Regions from separate parts of the Homo sapiens genome. Here region 2 is linked to region 1. Evidence: fine-mapped expression QTL. A gene starts in region 1. The other region holds a variant in brackets. All regions are shown on one strand. Distances are between the middles of the regions.

Region 1 (8,996 bases):
CCATACCTTGCCAGACTCTGTCATGGTATCGTGGTGACCCTCAGCCTCCCAGGAAATGTCCCCTCTGGCACAGCTTCTGAGCAGGGAAAGGAAACCTAAAGGGGTGGATTTCAGGAGCCAATGGGGAAGCTGGGCTACCCAGGCATTGGGGGAACTTTGACTCTGGTCAGAAAGGGCATTTCTGGCCAGGCACAGTGGCTCACGCCTGTAATCCCAGCACTTCGGGAGCCAAGGTGGGTGGATCATTTGAGGTGAGGAGTTTGAGACCAGCCTGGCCAACATGGTGAAACCCTGTCTCTACTGAAAATACAAAAAAAAATCAGCCAGGTGTGGTAGTGGGTGCCTGTAATCTCAGCTACTCAGGAGGTTGAGGTAAGAGAATAGCTTGAACCTGAGAGGTGGAGGTCACAGTGGGCCGAGATCGCACCACTGCACTCCAGAGCGAGACTGCGTCTCAAAAAAAAAAAAAAAAAAAAGGCATTTTTTTCCAACTCGCAGGAAGTTTCTTACGCTCCTGCTGGGGCCAGGTTTGGTGTCCCCCCAACAGAGCGTGGCCTGGTTTTGATGCAGTATTTTGAGTGGTGGAGCGGGCTGGGAGCTGGCATCTGGAGTCTGGACCTGGTGCAGGAACCAGCTCTGCATGACCTTGGACAAACCTCTGCCTTTTTAAATCTTCGGCTCCCTCATTTGTAAAACAAAGGTTGCCCTAAAATGATGGCAGGGCATCCTCTAGCAATGCAGCAAGACAAGGAATTCTAATTTTTTGACGCTTTGGTACATATCTCCTTCAACCCCACCTCCCAGCAGTCCTCCGGGCTCTCGGCTGTCCCCATAAAAACAGCTGGCAGATATGCTCACTCACCCCAAAGGTGAGGTCAAAAGCTGGCAGCTCACTGGGGCCCTATCTGGCCCTCAGAATTTCTGTTTGCTCAACACAGTAGTTTAAAATGTTTCAAGTAGTTGCCAATGTTTAAAAATCAGGACATTTCATTCTAGTATGGTGGGTCATGCCTGTAATCCCAGCACTTTGGGAGGCTGAGGCCAGCAGATCACCTGAGGTCAGGAGTTCGAGACCAGCCTGGCCAACATGGCGAAACAACATGGCTAAACAAAAATTAGCCAGGTGTGGTGGTGTGCATCTGTAATCACACCTACTTGGGAGGCTGAGGTATGAGAATTGCTTGAACCCAGGAGGCGGAGGATACAGTGAGCCAAGATCGTGTCACTGCCCTCCAGCCTGGGGGACAGAGCAAGACTCCATCTCAAAATAAATAAATAATAAAATAAAATAAAAATAAAAATCATGATATTTTATATACAACACCTGTTTGTTTTTTTTCTTTAAAAAAATCTGGAGACAGATTTGGGTTCCTAAATAGCAGCAATTGATGGGAACAGACTAATGGCCCCCATCAACCAGCGTATGCGCTCTCAGGTCTGCCATGGCCCATATCTGGCCCACTTTTCTCATTTTTGTTACCTTTGGGCCCTTGGGGGCAGCTGGGTGTGCGATCTCTACTCCAAGGTTTAAGGGGCTCAAAGTTAATTTCTCTGGTACTTCTTCGGGAGCCAGCATTTCAAAGTGGAACCCAGGAAAGACTCGCCAGTGATTAGCACTCATGAATCTTCCCACCAAAACATGTGTATCCCTATGGATAGGGGAGAACTTGAAAGAACTTCTCAGATGCCCTGTTTACTACCCCTCTGACTATAGACATTTCACCAAAGCTCCCTCTCCCCTCTGCCACCCCTAGCATATTAAGCTGCTCTCTGAACTTGCTATTGCCATCCCTGTACTACCAACTCAGTCTGCTAGATGGCAAGGGTGTAAGTGGGAACCTAGGCCCTTCCAAGATGGTTCCCAAGCCCAGCAGTCCCAGCCTGTCCTGAAGGTACCTTTTGTGGAGAAAGTAAAGATGGTCCTGGCACAGAAAGCAGGTGATGGGCAGAAAGTGTCTTTCGAAGAGGAGGAATTGGGTGGCCACAACTGGATCTTCCTTATTTGGAGATGCAACTCCCTTTCCTTACCTAGCCAGGCTACAGGGACTCCTGGTGCCAAGGGACAGGGACTGCTGGTGACCACTAGAGTGTGGCAGACATTAATTAGCTTAGAATCCCTGAAGAAATGCCTTACCTAATGGCTAAATGCCTTTGGATTACACCTTTGGATCTGTACTACGAGTGACCAGAAGCATGGTAAATGCTGCTGCCCTCCGTCACGACCCACAAGCAGGAAACCTGAAATCTCTTAGGCAATTTCTGCCTTCTCTTACCAGTGATAACTATGTAAACCATGCCCCGTTCCTTTCTGCACTTGTAGAACTAAACTTTAAGCCCAAGTATCCATCTCATCAGCACTCCTAGAAGACCTGTGTTTCCAATTCAAATATGCATTCTGATTACTTTAGCAGATTTTATTTTTAAACCATGTCTTACACATGATTTGAGAAAAAGACTCCTAAAATCCCATTTGGAAGAGGGAGGACTATACATTATTAACGTGACGCAAAGTCCCATCTAACGTGCCACCTTCCTTAGTGCCACAAAAGTGGTTCTCAAACTTCATGGCACGTTAAGAACCATCTAGACCGCTTATAAAAACATGCAGATTCTCGAGCCCGTTCCACCAGAGATGAACAGAGTGGCTCTGGAGCAGGCCCCGGGAAGAACATGTGAAAGCCGTGAAGCTCCCCAGGTGATTGTCATGACTGCCTCTCCTCGCTCGGGGCCTTTTTTTTTTTTTTTTGAGCCGGAGTCCCGCTCTTTCGCCCAGGCTGGAGTGCAGTGGCGCGATCTCGGCTCACTGCAAGCTCCGCCTCCTGGGTTCACGCTATTCTCCTGCCTCAGCCTCCCGAGTAGCTGGGACTACAGGCGCCCGCTACCACGCCTGGCTAATTTTTTTGTATTTTAATAGAGACAGGGTTTCATCGTGTTAGCCAGGATGGTCTCTATCTCCTGACCTTGTGATCCGCCCGCCTCGGCCTCCCAAAGTGCTGGGATTACAGGCGTGAGCCACCGCGCCCGGCCCGGGGACTCTTAAAATACAAACATTACTGGAAGGTCACCTCCTGCTAGGGCCAAGAGAAGAGCATGAAGGGCTGCGAGAAATTGGGAGGCTTGGGGCGACGTTTGGAAGCCTTAGTGGAGGGAGGGGTCTGTTATGGGGAGCAGGGAGGGCGGAGCAGAAGTGAAGCGCGACCGGACAGCGACTCCACCCTGCTACGCACTCCCTACCAGGACCGCCTCCTCTGGCCCAACCCTCCCGGAACTTCGAGCCCCAGCGGGCAGCGCGCAGCACGCAGGCGCAGAGCGTGCCCGGCGCAAAGCACTGCATGCCGGGAGTCGTTGTCGGCCTGGGCGGGCGGTGCAGCTCACTTCTGACCCCGCCCCCCAGGGTCTCCAGGTGTCTAACCAGCTTCCCTCCACCCGGGTGCGCGTCACAGACCTTCCCCGCCTGCATCTGGCACTTCGCGCGACCCCCTCCTCCAGGCCGAGAAACTTCGCGCCTGGGACCTGCCGACGACTAAGGCTCAGTGAGACTCGACGAATCAGGCCCGTGTCTTTCGTCCGGGTAAAGCGAGGGGCTGGACTAGAAAGATCCTTCCGGTCGCCTCTGGCTCGCCCAGCTCTCCCGCCACGCCCCGTACCTGGGGGCTGCTGGGAGTTGCAGTTCCCTGAGCCCGACCCCTCCTGCCCAGTCCCCCCCGCCCCGGGCCGGCCGGCCCTCCCGGTCCCGACATGCTCTGCGCCTCCTGCCGCCTCCTAGCGGCCCGGGCCGCGACCACGCTGCCCGCCCCGCCCCGAGCCCGGGGCCCCGCGCTCCGCTGCAGTGAAGGGCGTTGCATTTCCCGGGGTACCCCGAGCTGCCCTCTTGTGACTCCTTGGCGGGGCGGCTGGTCAGACAAAGTGTGCCTCCGGGCCGGAGGGCGACCCAGAGGAGGGGGAAGATGCCGCCGGCCACGGGCGGAGGCCTGGCAGAGTCCGAGCTGCGTCCCCGGAGGGGCCGCTGTGGCCCCCAGGCTGCTAGGGCCGCAGGCCGGGACGTGGCCGCTGAGGCTGTGGCGCGAAGCCCCAAACGGCCTGCTTGGGGCTCACGGCGCTTCGAGGCGGTCGGCTGGTGGGCCCTGCTGGCCTTGGTGACGCTGCTGTCCTTCGCCACCCGCTTCCACCGCTTGGACGAGCCGCCGCACATCTGGTGAGTGATGGGAGGGACTCGGCGGGCACCATGGCAACCGCGACGGGACGCCGCCCTCTGATTGGCCCGAGGGTACGGAGGGGGCGGGATCTATAGGAGGAGGGCCACGGTGGAGGGGAACTTGAGGTATCGGGTGGGTTGGCCTCTGGCGAGGTGCATTCTCTGGGAGGGGGATCGTTTTGCTCTGGTGGTGGGGCAGTGGGATTCTTAGTATCTGAGGAAGCAGCCCTCATGTCTTCCAGGTTATGCTACAGTGCATCACCTGGCTTGCAAATTGTGGCTTTTAAAGGTGCTTTCAACTTTCCAAAGAGAATTGCAAATTTTTGGGTACAGAATTTTCTAAGGCCTGAGTTCCTATGTCTGCAGGATTTTCAGGCATCAACAGAGGAGAAAATACCTAACTGTGTACCTTTATCCTATAGGGCAAGGACAGTTTGGGTGTTCAGGTATGGTGACCAAAGGATTTTATGAGGCAGAACTCTTCTTGTGAGAAGAGATTTATTTTCTTAAAGGTTTTAGCTTGTACTATCCAGATACTGGGTGTCAGAAATGGAATTCTTTAAGCAAAAAGCAGGCAAGAAAACAGACTGTCAGGGTTGCTTTATTTAGAAATTAATAAATTAGCTTGTTATTGTGTCGTGACTGCTGGCAGAAGATGAGACTCCTGGGTTAGAGACAAAGGACTTTATTACAGGAAATAGGATGCATGTTAGAAGCAGTTTCCCTTGCCATCCAAGTCCCACAGGGTGACGCTATGGGTTTAAATGGATGACTGCACAGGCAGTGGGTTGCATCCAAGTGAAGGAACGACAAGCTTGGAAAATCTGCTGTTTTATAGAAGGCAGTACGCAGACCTCCTCTTTGTCCTGGAGGGAGACACTGCCTCTTCTCTCAAAGTTGCTTGCTGCAAACACAACCATGAGAAATGGCCCAGGTGAGATGCAGTCAGGGCCTTGCATTCTTGGTATACCCAGAATGATGTGTAGAGGCACGAGCAATCTGACAGCCTCTCTCACTCCTCGATTCTATGGTCTTGGCTTCTAGCAGATTTTCACATGAATATACAACTCCCCTGGCTACTCACATCTTTTCAGTTTGTCCCTTACAGCATTTAATTAAGGTTGTTGTCAATGGGACTCTAAGCAGCAGAATAAGGCCAGCTTACAGTATTTACCTCAACCATGCCCTCCAGGGTCCTGGATTCAGCCACTTGTGAATAAGTCCTGGGGGCACCGAGGAATCTTATTTCAGACATCTGGGCTGCAGTCTAAGACCAGTCTATTAACCACTGTGACCTGTGCACAGGGGTTCAGATTGATCTCTGATCTTTGGTGTCATTACCAGTAATTACAATAGCCCACTACCCTTGTAAAAATTTTTTTAAGAAAGTAATTACCAGGCTGGGCGCAGTGGCTCACACCTGTAATCCCGGCAGTTTGGGAGGCCGAGGCGGGCAGATCACCTGAGGTCAGGAGTTCGAGACCAACCTGGCCAACATGGTGAAACTCCGTCTCAACTGAAAATACAAGACTTAGCCGGGCATGATGGCGGGTGCCTGTAATCCCAGCTACTCGGGAGGCTGAGGTGGGAGAATCACTTGAACCTGGGAAGCAGAGGTTGCAGTGAGCTAAGATCGCACCATTGCATTCCAGCCTAGGCGACAAAGCCAGACTCTGTCTCAAAAAAAAAAAAAAAAAATTAACTACCATGATTAATGGAAAGATATTTTGTGACCCATTCTTCCTTACACTAACATATTACTTGGAGGAGTGCAGGCCACTCCAGGATTTTTGTTAGATTTTTATTTGGATCACCATCAAATTTGATTACCATTACAGTGGTTTAAACCACATGGGCAGTGTCACTGAACAGTTGCAGCCTCAATCACTAGACAAGGCATAACCTAAGTAAGGCCCTTAGGATCTCAGGAGAAGCATGTGATTTGTATCAGCCGCATTGATAGAAGGTGGTGCTGATCTGTGTGTTTGCACACCTATGAGGGAGGTCTGCGTTTGGGAGTTGGTGTTGATGTCATCAGGCACGTGGGAATAGTTCAAGACTGGCCGTGTCCATGTGAGTTTTTGTTTTCTTTTTTTATTTTCTTTTTTATACTGACCTGCTAGATAAAGTTTTTATGTTTTCATAGTGAGATGACAAACTCAGCCACAGGTCAGATTGCCAGCCACAGTTGCTGCTTGACCTAGATGGACCATGTGAATGTTTGCCAGGCTTTGGTGCTGGATAGGGACAAAGAGAACATTGTTTCCCTTCTCTTTACATCTCCAGGGTCCTGTGGTGTTCCTTCCCCAGATGCCAGGATTGTTTCTTTCCTTCCATTGCTACATAATGAGTGTGTCCTACCCTAGTAACTATAACTTCACCTTTTCTCCATTTATCCCCTACCAATACGCAGGCCTTCTAATATCCAATTGTTAGAAAATTGACAGAGGCCCATTATGTCTTCTACCTTGACACATGTGGGCCACTGTAGGGGGACTTTAAAAGCACTATACCCAACCAAATGATCATTAACTTTATGTTCTGGCACCAGGCCATTCCAACAAGACAATCTAGTGACTGAACTAGAATTAAGTCTGAATTACATAGATAGCCTCCTCCTCCCAGCTGATCTGGGCTTTCTGTAAGGGGGAAGAAAGATGAATCATGGCCAGAAATGGTCAGGGGAGAATCTCACATTTTCAAAATAGGTTTATATAACCCTCCACCCCTTTTTCCTGATCATTACCCAGTTGGTAGGCAAAAGGAGATGACCCATTTCTGAGAATGGCTGCCTTAGGTGACCAAACTGCTTCAGTAAGGTTTGCAGACCAGGAGGAGGTTAAAAACATAGAATCAAAAATCTTTTTGAGTTGATCTTTGAGGGAACTGTTCAGTACTTGACAATGTCATGCCTGTGGATGGTAGGGAGTGTGGGAGGTCCATCGAATACCTTGGCTATTGACTGTTGACACTGTTGGGTGGCCATTGCGACAAAAAGATATGCCAGTGTCAGACTGTAGATGGTTTGGAAAGCAGAAAACCTGGCAGTTTAGTTTCAAGGGCCACAGTGGTATACACAGAGTCAGATAATTGGACTGGAAAAGCAACATCAGCACTGTAAACTGAAAAAGTATCAGCAGTAGCAAGGTACTGATGAGAGCCTAGAGAAGGGAACAAAGTCCTAATGTCAATCTCCCAGGAGCAGGTGTGGTCAGTGCCCCTTGCAATGTGGCTTCCTTTACTGCAAGACAAGCAGGCCAACTTTTGGCAGGAGTCACAAGTCTGGCACGCAGTGGTGGCTTCTGCCTCAGAAACATGTAGTCCCTTACGTTGTGCCTAGCCCATGATGGTAGATGTTTCCACACCGGTTGCATGAATCCAGGTGGCTATGGCAGCAGTCTTGGTGGTGCAGGCTGGATCAGCAGTTTGATTCCAGTCAGTCTTACGAGAGTACCTGCCCTTAGTGTGGGCACCTACGTGAGTGATCCAGTCTGTCCTATTGGCAGGCAGCCATGATGTGTTTCCACACTTCTCAGCTTTCATCTCTCAGTATTTAGTCTTCCAAGTGGCATACCAAATGCTTCAATCCTTACTGCCATCAGCCATCCAGAGTTATCATTGGGGCTAAGTGCCTGCTGCTGCTTGGTGGGCAACATCAGCTTTTAACTCAGCCTAATCATTGGTGAGCCAGGCCTAAGCATTTACAGGAACCCCTGTGAATCAAGGGCCCTACTGAACAGCAGCTCGGCTTCAGGTAGCAGAGAAGGTTGTTTCTCCCAGAGTGGGAGCTGCCACTTCTTCACGTAAAACCAAGATGCCTCTAGGGCCAGGCTAGCTATACTCTTTTTTTTTTTTTTTTTTTTTTTTAGAGATGAGATCTGACTCTGTTGCCCAGTCTGGAGTGGAGTGGTACAATCATAGCTCACTGCATCCTCAAACTCCTGGGCTCCTCCTGTCTCAGCCTCCTGAGTAGCTGGCACTACAGGCACGTGCCACCATGTCCAGCTAATTAAAACAGATTTTTTAAGAGCTGAGTTCTCACTATCCTGCCAAGGCTGGTCTTGAACTCCTGACCTCAAGCCATCCTCCTGCCTCAGCCTCCTGAATAGCTGGGATTACCAGCTGTACTCTTGAATGTACTATTTCCATAGGATCAGTGAGGCTTGTTAAACCCTTCCCTTGTTATCAGTAGATTCCCATTGACCCACCCCAAAGTGGGAATACTAGGCCAGGGAGTCCTGAGGCCTTTATGGGTCTGGCAATCAATTTCAAAGTGTTGAGTAGTTAACTAAGGAGTTAATAGCTGTCCTTTTAAAAAGGGTGTGCTTGGTACCTATGTCCAGCAGGTGGCACTGTGATTCTGGTGCATGGCTCTCAGTACTCCAGCAGCCACAAAGTTGTTTTTTGTTTGTTTGTTTTTGTTTTTTGAGATTCTCGCTCTGTCGCCCAGGCTGGAGTGCAGTGGCGCAATTTCAGCTCACTGCAACCTCTGCCTCCTGGCTTCAAGCAATTCTCTGCCTTAGCCTCCCGAGTAGCTGGGATTACAGGCGCCCCTATCACGCCTGGCTACCTTTTTGTATTTTTAGTAGAGACAGGGTTTCACCATGTTGGCCAGGCTGGTCTCAAACTCCTGACCTCAGGTGATCCGCCCGCCTCGGCCTCCCAAAGGGTTGGGATTACAGGCATGAGCCACTGCACCCAGCCGCCACGAAGTTTTTAAGCCTGTGATTTATTTCCTTTCCCTTCCAGGGATGTAGATTTTTTTCTTCTGGACCACCAGGAGAGGACAGGATCACCTGTC
Region 2 (8,000 bases), 59 kb after region 1:
TCTCTTGTGTTTATGCCATTACACATTTTGGGGTTAGTTAAACCCATACCCGCACTGATCCATGGTCTGAAGCAGGTCATTGGTCGGGGGCTTGGGACCCCACAGGCTGTGGGCTAGAAAGCCAGCCAGGGACGTGGGGAAGAGAAGCTGTGTTGAGTAGGCATGATTGGAGCAGGTTTGGGGTTACCTCCATGTGTTCCAGCCTCGGCGGCGGGCCCGAAGCCCACGCATGGCTGCAAGGCCTGTGCCTGGGCTGGCTGTCCTCGCCCTGGGCTTCCAGTTTCTCAGCCAAGACTGAATGTAGCAGATGCCCACGGGGCCTTGCCAGCTCCCAGATGGGGCCTCATTTTCTTTAAGCTCAGATGCCAGGCCTGCCAGGCTATGTGACTGCAGGCACTGGGTCTGCAGCATGTTAGGAACGCCTTGGCCGCTGTGGTGCCCAGAGCATTTTCTGGAGCCCTACAGGCTGCAGTGAGTGAGGGCCTCATCTGCTGTGTGACCTATTAATGGGTCAGGCTCAGGTGTCCATGTCTGGCCCACAGCTCTCTAGGTGGCCTGGCTTTGGAAAGGTCTAATGCCCTCCTCTGACCTGTGTCTGAGTCATCCTAAGCATGGATGCTTTCACCTTTTTTGAAAGCCACTCTTCTACTTAGGTGTGAGTGCGTGTGTGCATGGGCATGCACTGGTGTGTGTGCACGCGTGTGTATGCATGTGTGTGTGCACGTGTGCGTGTATGCACGCACGTCTGTATCAGGGGAGAGTATCCCTTACCTCCTCCTCTGCTCAAGGGCTCAGCCCTCTCTCCTGCATCCCTCCTCTATCAGCCCACATCTCCCCTCCTATACAAAGAACAACCCCTCACTTCCTTTCCTCTCCAGCTACCCCTTTGGTTCTTTTCTTCCTTTGATAGCAAAACCCTTCGAAAGAGCAGTCTTTCCTTGCTGTTTTCATCTCCTCACTTCTTATGGGAGGATGGGAACCTGCTTCAACCAGGCTTTGCCCCCACTTTCAATCTACTACAGTCAAGGTCACCAACCACCCTCATCTTGCCAGATGTAGAGTCACATCTTAGTCCTTATCTTCCTCTCCTGCTCAGCAGCACTCGAAAAAGTTGGTCATGCCTTTATTTTTACACTTTTTATTATGGAAAAATGTTAACATACACAAGAATCAAGAGATGAGGGAATCTCCATGCACCTCTTCCCCCAACCACACCCCCCTCCCATTTTTGTTTTTGTTTCTTTGTTTTTGCTGGAGAGTTTTAAAGCAAATCCAAGACTTCATGTTCTTTTACCTGTAAATTCTTCCATATGAATTTCTAGCTGGCACTTTATTTCACATATGAAGCCACGCCATCAATACATCTAACAAGATGAACGGTATCTTCTCATCATCACCTAATTCAAATTCCCTGATGGCCCACATTCATCCACGTGTAGATTTCCCAGACGTCTCTCTGCAGTTGGTTTGTTCAACTCAGGATGCACACTTCGCATTTGATTGTGTCTCTTCACTCTTTCACTTTGGCCTGGCCCCTCTTGCCATTTCCCCTCACCATTGCTGTGTGGGAGAAGTGGGTCATTTGTCTAATGGCCTGTTCAGCATTCTCCACTTGGCTGAAGCTGCTTCGTGGCATCTTTTGACTTATTCCTCTATGCACCGCATTTACTGCCAAGCGTGGTTAGAGCTGGGGACACCCTCCTTCCTTTTTGAGTCCCTCCTGGTTTTCCTTGCCGGTTCTCCTCCCATCTCTTTGTGCTGGCTCAGCCCTCAGACCTCCTCACCTGCACCTGCTCCCATCAAAGTCTCAGCCAGTCCCATGCTTTAATCACCACCCAGGTGCTGATGACATCTCCAGCCCGACTCCTGTATCTAGCCACCTTCTTGACATCCCCACATAGCATCTTAACCAGAACACACTCAAGATGGAACTCTTGGGGTTTCCCTTGGCCTTTTTCTTCCCAGCTTTCTCCACCTCAAACCAGAGTGTGCTGAGTTGTTCATGCTGAAGATCTGGGAGTCATCCTTGCGTTCCTGCTTTCCCTCAGACCCCACATCTAATCATCCATGAATCCTCAACCTCTGTTCCAAGTTTAACTGCTTCTTTATTCACTCCCTATCCTGGTGCAAGCTACCATATTCTCTCTCCTGAATGCCTCTGACACAGTCCCAACTGGGCTTTTTTTTTTTTTTTTTTTAGACAGGATCTCACTCTGTTGCCCAGGCTGAAGTGTGGTGGCATGATCATTGCTCACTGCAGCCTTGAAATCCTGGGTTCAAGGAATCCTCCTGCCTCAGTCTCCCGAGTAGTTGGGACTCCAGGTGCATGCCACCATGCCCAGCTAATTTTTAAAATTTTTGTGGAGATAGGGTCTTGCTTTGTTGCCCAGGCTGGTCTCAAGCCCCTGGCCCCAAGTAATCCTCTCACCTCAGCCTCCCAAAATGCTGGGATTACAGGTGTGCACCACCACACCTGGCCCCAGCTGGGCTTTCTGCTTCTACTTGTCCTACCCTGGTGACAGTGACCATTTCAGCACATAAGAGTTACATGGGTGGTGGCCAGGGGCTAAGGGGAGGAGGGAATGAGGAATTATTGATTATGGGTATACAGTCTCAGTTTTGCAAGATAAAGAGTTGTGGAGGATGGCTGGTGGTAATGGTTGCACATTACGAATGTATTTCATGCCACTGAACAGGACAGTTACAAATGGTTAAGATGGTGGCCGGGCGCGGTGGCTCACGCCTATAATCCTAGCACTTTGGGAGGCCAAGGTGGGCGGATTGCTTGAGGTCAGGAGTTCGAGACCAGCCTGGCCAATATGGTGAAACCCCATCTCTACTAAAAAATACAAAAATGATGATGGCATATGCCTGTAATCCCAGCTACTTGGGAGGCTGAAGAAGGAGAATTGCTTGAACCTGGGAGGCGGAGGTTGCACTGCACCCAGATCACGCCATTGCACTCCAGCCTGGGTGACAGAGCAAGACTCTGTCTCAACAACAACAACAAAACAAACAAACAAAAAACCCATAAATGGTTAAGATGGTGAATATGATTATGTGTACTTTACCACCACCACCACAACAAAAAAACCTGGAAAACAAACACATAAGGGGATCATACTCCTACCCAGAATCCTCCCATAGTTTCTCAGATGATGAGTGAAACTTGGAGTCCCAGCGTGGCCTGCACAGCCTGTTGCCCACTCAGACCTCGCCCCACCCTCTCCTCCCCTCGCTCACTCTGCCTGGTTCTTTGGGCTCCGCATGTGTGCCCACAGACCCTTTGCTGGCTCTCATGTCTCACCTCCACAGAGCTTGTGCTGGCCTCTCTAGTGCAAAGCATCCTCTCCCCACCTACAGGCACCCCTTGCCCCTATCCGGCTTTGTCTCTCCCTGACACCCCATTATGTAGGCCTATTTGTTTACTGCACTTGTCACGTTCTGTTGCACGGAAATGGGCAGGCGGTCATGGAAGCCACTGGGCTCTGTGTTTGGAGGGGAGGGAAGAGGGACAGTCTTTGAACCCTTGCTGAAGATGACAAGGTAGCCAGAAGTGCCCCTGACACCTGGTGTGTGGCCCTCGGGCCCACATGGTACTCATACTTATTGCAAAAGAAGATAAAGATGGCAGAAGCGTGCCTGAGCTAGGGAGTTGTCATTTCTAAGCTGGCGATGGTGAGATGCTGAGGCCACCCAGGGCATGCAGTGCCTGAGGTTGGGACTGTTTTCCTTATCCACTCACCCCTCCCTGCACACTGGAATCACCTGGGGGACTTTTGTAAAATACAGGGTACTGGGCCCCACCTGAGAAATTTTGGTTTTTCAGGGATGGGGCCTGGACATTGAGAGTGACTCTCCTTTGCAGCTGGGCTGGAGAACCTTGGGAATTGAGGCTGAGAGCTGCCGGGCTGCCACTTGTCCAGGCCGAGGGACTGTCAGATGTTCTGAAAGCAGCCTCTGTTCAGAAAGCCTGGGAACCTGTCTCCCCATAGACCAGGCTCTCCTCGCCTCTGCAAGGCCTTCCACAGAGCAGACCTAGAAACCTGGAATCTGGCCAGCAAGGAGGTTCCTCAGGACAGAAGTGAGCTGCCTCAGGCTTCCCTGGCGGGGCCCCGTGCAGCCCCAGGCTTGGTTTCTGGGCAGAGGCATGGGGCACTCTCAGGCCCCGCTGCTTCCTCCCTGCGCAGCACTCGGTCACGTGCTCCAATCCTTTCTTGGGCACAGCCCAGTGGAGCCAGCCTCCTGGGGCTCCCTCTTGCCCTGCCCCAGTCCCGTCCCCAGCCCAGGTAAATCCACCTTCAGGCCTCCGGTCCATCCTGGCCTGCTGAGTGGAGAGAGGATTGACCAACACTAACCTCCCTGGAGGACATTCCATCCTTGGGGAGACCGCCCTCCCTCTTCGGCTTGTTTTTCTGTCTCTTTCTCAGTCTCTGCCTGATAAAAGGCCCTCGAAAGGTCTGCTGAACCACAGAGTGTCCCAGGCCTGCCATCTGGGGACCCTGGAGCTGCCGGCCCCTGGGAGGGGACCATGAGAGGCAGCAGCAGGGCGCAGCCCCGTCCCGTCCAGTCAGGGAGTCTTCATGGCTTCTCTCCTGCGAAGCAGCCCTTGTGGATTTTAAGGGCTGACTTGACTTGGAAAATAATTGTTTTGAGGGGGAGAGGGGACAAGTGGACGGGTCTTGATCCCACGCCCAGGCCCACACCTTGGTAGACTTTGAGTCAGTGGCCACTGATGGACCGTAGAAGTTTGCGGAGAGGACCCAGCGAGGATGA[T/C]GCAGGAAAGAGTCCTTAGGCAGCCACCCTGAGACTGTCATCCTCTGTCCCCATAGGGAGCACTGCGGGAGGAAGTCTCCCCCTACTCAACACACCCACAAGATTCCCATCTTCTGCCCTCAAATCTGCTCTGCTCAGTCACGAAGCAGAACAGTCCGCTTCATGTCCTCCCAGCCCTACTGTCTGGATGAGGTGACCAGCCTGGGTCATGCAGCTGCTGGAGGAAGGGACAGAACCAGTCTCCTGACCCTGAGATGTGTCCGCCAGGGCAGGGAACTGTTGTCTCCTTGCCACAGTTATAACAGCCTTTGCTAACGGGTGTTTCTTATCCCACCTGGCTGCCCCACACACTTCCCTCGTGCCAACCTCTCCTCCACCCAACCTCTCCTCCACCTCCCCCATCCCCCAAGTCCCCCACCCTCATCCTCTTGCAGACCTGAGCCCTGTCTGCCGCTCTTCCTGGGGCCTCACCTGAAATCTGTGTGTTTTGAAGTCTGGCCACTAGCCTAGCCCAGTGGCCTGCTCATGGGGCTCAGCACTCACCAGAGACTTCTGCTGCTCCTCGGGGCTGCCCTGCTGGCTTCCTGGGTAGCTCAAGGACCAGAAAGTTCTCTCCACTGCACAGCGGAGCAAGGCCAGGCTGGCCCAGATGCACAGGCAGAGAGGCAGGGGCCAGGAGAGGTTGGGAGGACTTGTTTATTCAAGGCACGGTCATAGCATTAACAAGAAGGTTCAGCATTCTGGCACATTCCTTTTGTGGTGGTGGCCAAGGTTAGCCCACACCCCCTCCCCCCCGACCGGGGGCCCCAGAGGACGCAACGCTGCTGATAGGCACTTTGCTTCCAGGGGCAGTGGAGGGTCAGGCAGGTGGGCATGGGGCCACTGGAGGCCTGAGGAGGGCCCCTCCTGGAGGCTCTAGGCAATACCGGTTCCTGGGCGGCAGCTCCTTCCAGAAAGGATTAAGTCAGGAGGTGATTTGGTGGATGGAGTGGGGTGGGGCGGCTGGGAAGTGGCTGGCAGAGGAGTGGGATGGCAGTAGGTGGGGGGAGGGGGGCAATGGGTGAGGCAGGTGTGGGCTGAGGCAGGAGGTGCCTGAGAGGGCCTGGATGTGGTGGCGGGGGGAGGCTAAAAGATGCCCCCTGCTCCACCATCCTGTAGTGACCATGGGAGGTCCAGATGGAGCCAACTGCCATGAGGCTTTGCTGGTTCCCCTAAGAGTGGACTATGGAACCTTCTCCACATGCTCACCACCTTCTCTCAGAGCCAGGCTACACTGGACCCAGGTTCAGAGGGAGAAGCCCCCAGTCATCCCGCCACATTGTCTGCCAGGACTTTTCCCATATGTGGCTTCCACAGTCCGGCAGGGGCTGCAGGGGCTGGGGGCAGGGGCCAGGGAGCTGTGTCCAGCAAAGAAGAGACCCCAGGCCAGCTTCTGGTGTGACCCCCCACACCCCATACACCAAATACACATGATGGGGTCGGGCAGGGCCTGGAGCTGGCCACCTCCCCATCATGTGCCAAGCTCCTGCTGGGCCTGACCGCTATGCTGTAACAGCGTACTTTCCCCTTGTTGGTTGGTGAAATTCCAGTGGGGAGGGGGCCTGTGGGACCTGGGTGTGTAGGGGCCAGGCTAGGACCATTTCCCCTTTATTCCTAGCTGGACAAGGAATGGGAAAGACAGCCTCTCTCCAGCCAACCCAAGCTCTCTGGAAAGACACCCTCATGCCAAAATGTGGGCCATGCCCTGGGGGTATAGCAGTTTCTGCCCATTGAGCACAATTTCTCACCTGCGGTGAAGCTTGGAGCTTCTGGGGCTAGGATGGGGCAAAGGTGGGGCAGGGACAAGGTCTAGGTGATCTGAGTTCAGGGCAGCCATGTGCCTGGGGCCTGGTGCAGGTGCTCAGGTGAGGTGAGCCGGGGGCCGGCCTTCAGTAGGTTGGTGGCAGGGACCCAGACCTTTGGGGGAGGGGGCTGAAGAGGGCCCTGGAGCACACAGACCCCATTCAGCTTGGCTTGTTCTGGTTCATTGAGGCCCCCACTGGCCCTTCTCATGTCCTCCCTGGCTGGGCTGCACGGTGGTCCTGATGAGAGCCCATCCCAGAGGCAGAAGCCGGTTCCCCCCGGCTGTGGCAAAGGTGCTGAGTGTCACCATCACTGTTCGGAATTCAGCTCCCCCAGGTCTCTGGTAGTGGCAGCCCTGGGAGGACAGCCTTGCTTCTCCAGAAAGGGCTTCTCCCTGGAGCACGTGGCCTTCCCCTCCACCACACCCCTGGCAGGCCTGGGGCGACATCACGGTTGAAGCATCTGCAATGTCTGGACCAGGCCCACACTGGAGGCCGCTTGGGTGGTCTTCAAGGCAGGGTGCAGGGGCAGCCCCGAGAAGGGAGGAAGGGTCCTACTTGGGACGCAGGTGATGGTCAGTCCTTAAGTTTGAAGCATGGGGTTCTTACCCTAACGTACTGCCCATCTTGGCCAAGCTGGGGGCCCAGGCACTCAGTTGGGTAGGAGGCAGGAGACGCTTTTAAGTGGCCACATCTTTGGCTTCGGGGGTCTTCTCTTTAGGCCCTGGGGCTTGGGGAGGTATAGCTGGTTTCCCACCACACAGAGTTTTGGGGAGAAGACCCCCCTTCCATGAATTCGGCTTCTGTCGTCTCACCCCACTTTGTGTTACCCAGCAAGGACTAACCAAGGTTTCCTTCTGAAAAATGCACACGAGTCTCATTTGATGAGCCCTGAGTGATCACGCTCTAGCTACCCTTGTAAGAATAGAAAGAAGGGCCTCTGCCCTGCTGCTCCTGGGGACATCTGATGAGGGCAGAGGAGCAGGAAGGGGCTGAGTTACCTCTTCTCAGGTCTACGCTTTCAGTTGGCTCTTGCTCTGGTGGGTGCAGAAACTTTCTCTTTACAGATCCCCATGCAGGGAACCCTGTGATGAGGTGGTCCTCCGTGTCCTGTCAATGTGCCCCGTGCACATACCTTTGCCTCCTCAGACTGCAGGGGAGGAATGGGCCGGGGCTGGGAGGAGGAGCAGCAGCAGAAGCTCCTTGGAAGGGCAGCTGATGCAGAGTGGTGATGACCCCACAGAGCCTTCGGCAGCCTCCTTCTGTCTCCTCCCTTAGGAACACCTTCTCCATCTTGGTCCCAGGAAGGGACCCCAGCGTTCAGTCTCTGTGCCGGGGCTCCAGCCACCTCTCTCAAGACATGTGCTTGCCTGTATCCTCCCA

The links. PIP is the estimated chance that this variant, and not a neighbour inherited with it, causes the effect.
Region 2: its variant is fine-mapped to the expression of GSTZ1 in nasal epithelium (TOPMed, PIP 0.90).

The regions. Positions count from the first base shown.
Region 1 is chr14:77,315,633-77,324,628 of GRCh38, reverse strand. It overlaps GSTZ1 (glutathione S-transferase zeta 1), which reads right to left and starts at 3,593. Exons shown (of 9, transcript NM_145870.3): 1 at 3,446-3,593. The coding sequence starts at 3,460. POMT2 (protein O-mannosyltransferase 2) reads left to right here and starts at 3,746. Exons shown (of 21, transcript NM_013382.7): 1 at 3,746-4,195. The coding sequence starts at 3,948. RefSeq lists enhancers at 2,930-2,979, 2,511-3,372, 3,250-3,519 and silencers at 3,600-3,979, 4,210-4,259.
Region 2 is chr14:77,256,950-77,264,949 of GRCh38, reverse strand. TMEM63C (transmembrane protein 63C) reads right to left here. Exons shown (of 24, transcript NM_020431.4): 24 at 5,455-8,000. LOC124903351 (a long non-coding RNA gene) reads right to left here and starts at 5,131. Exons shown (of 2, transcript XR_007064276.1): 1 at 3,808-5,131; 2 at 1,123-1,560. The variant T/C (reference allele first, on the strand shown) is at 4,777.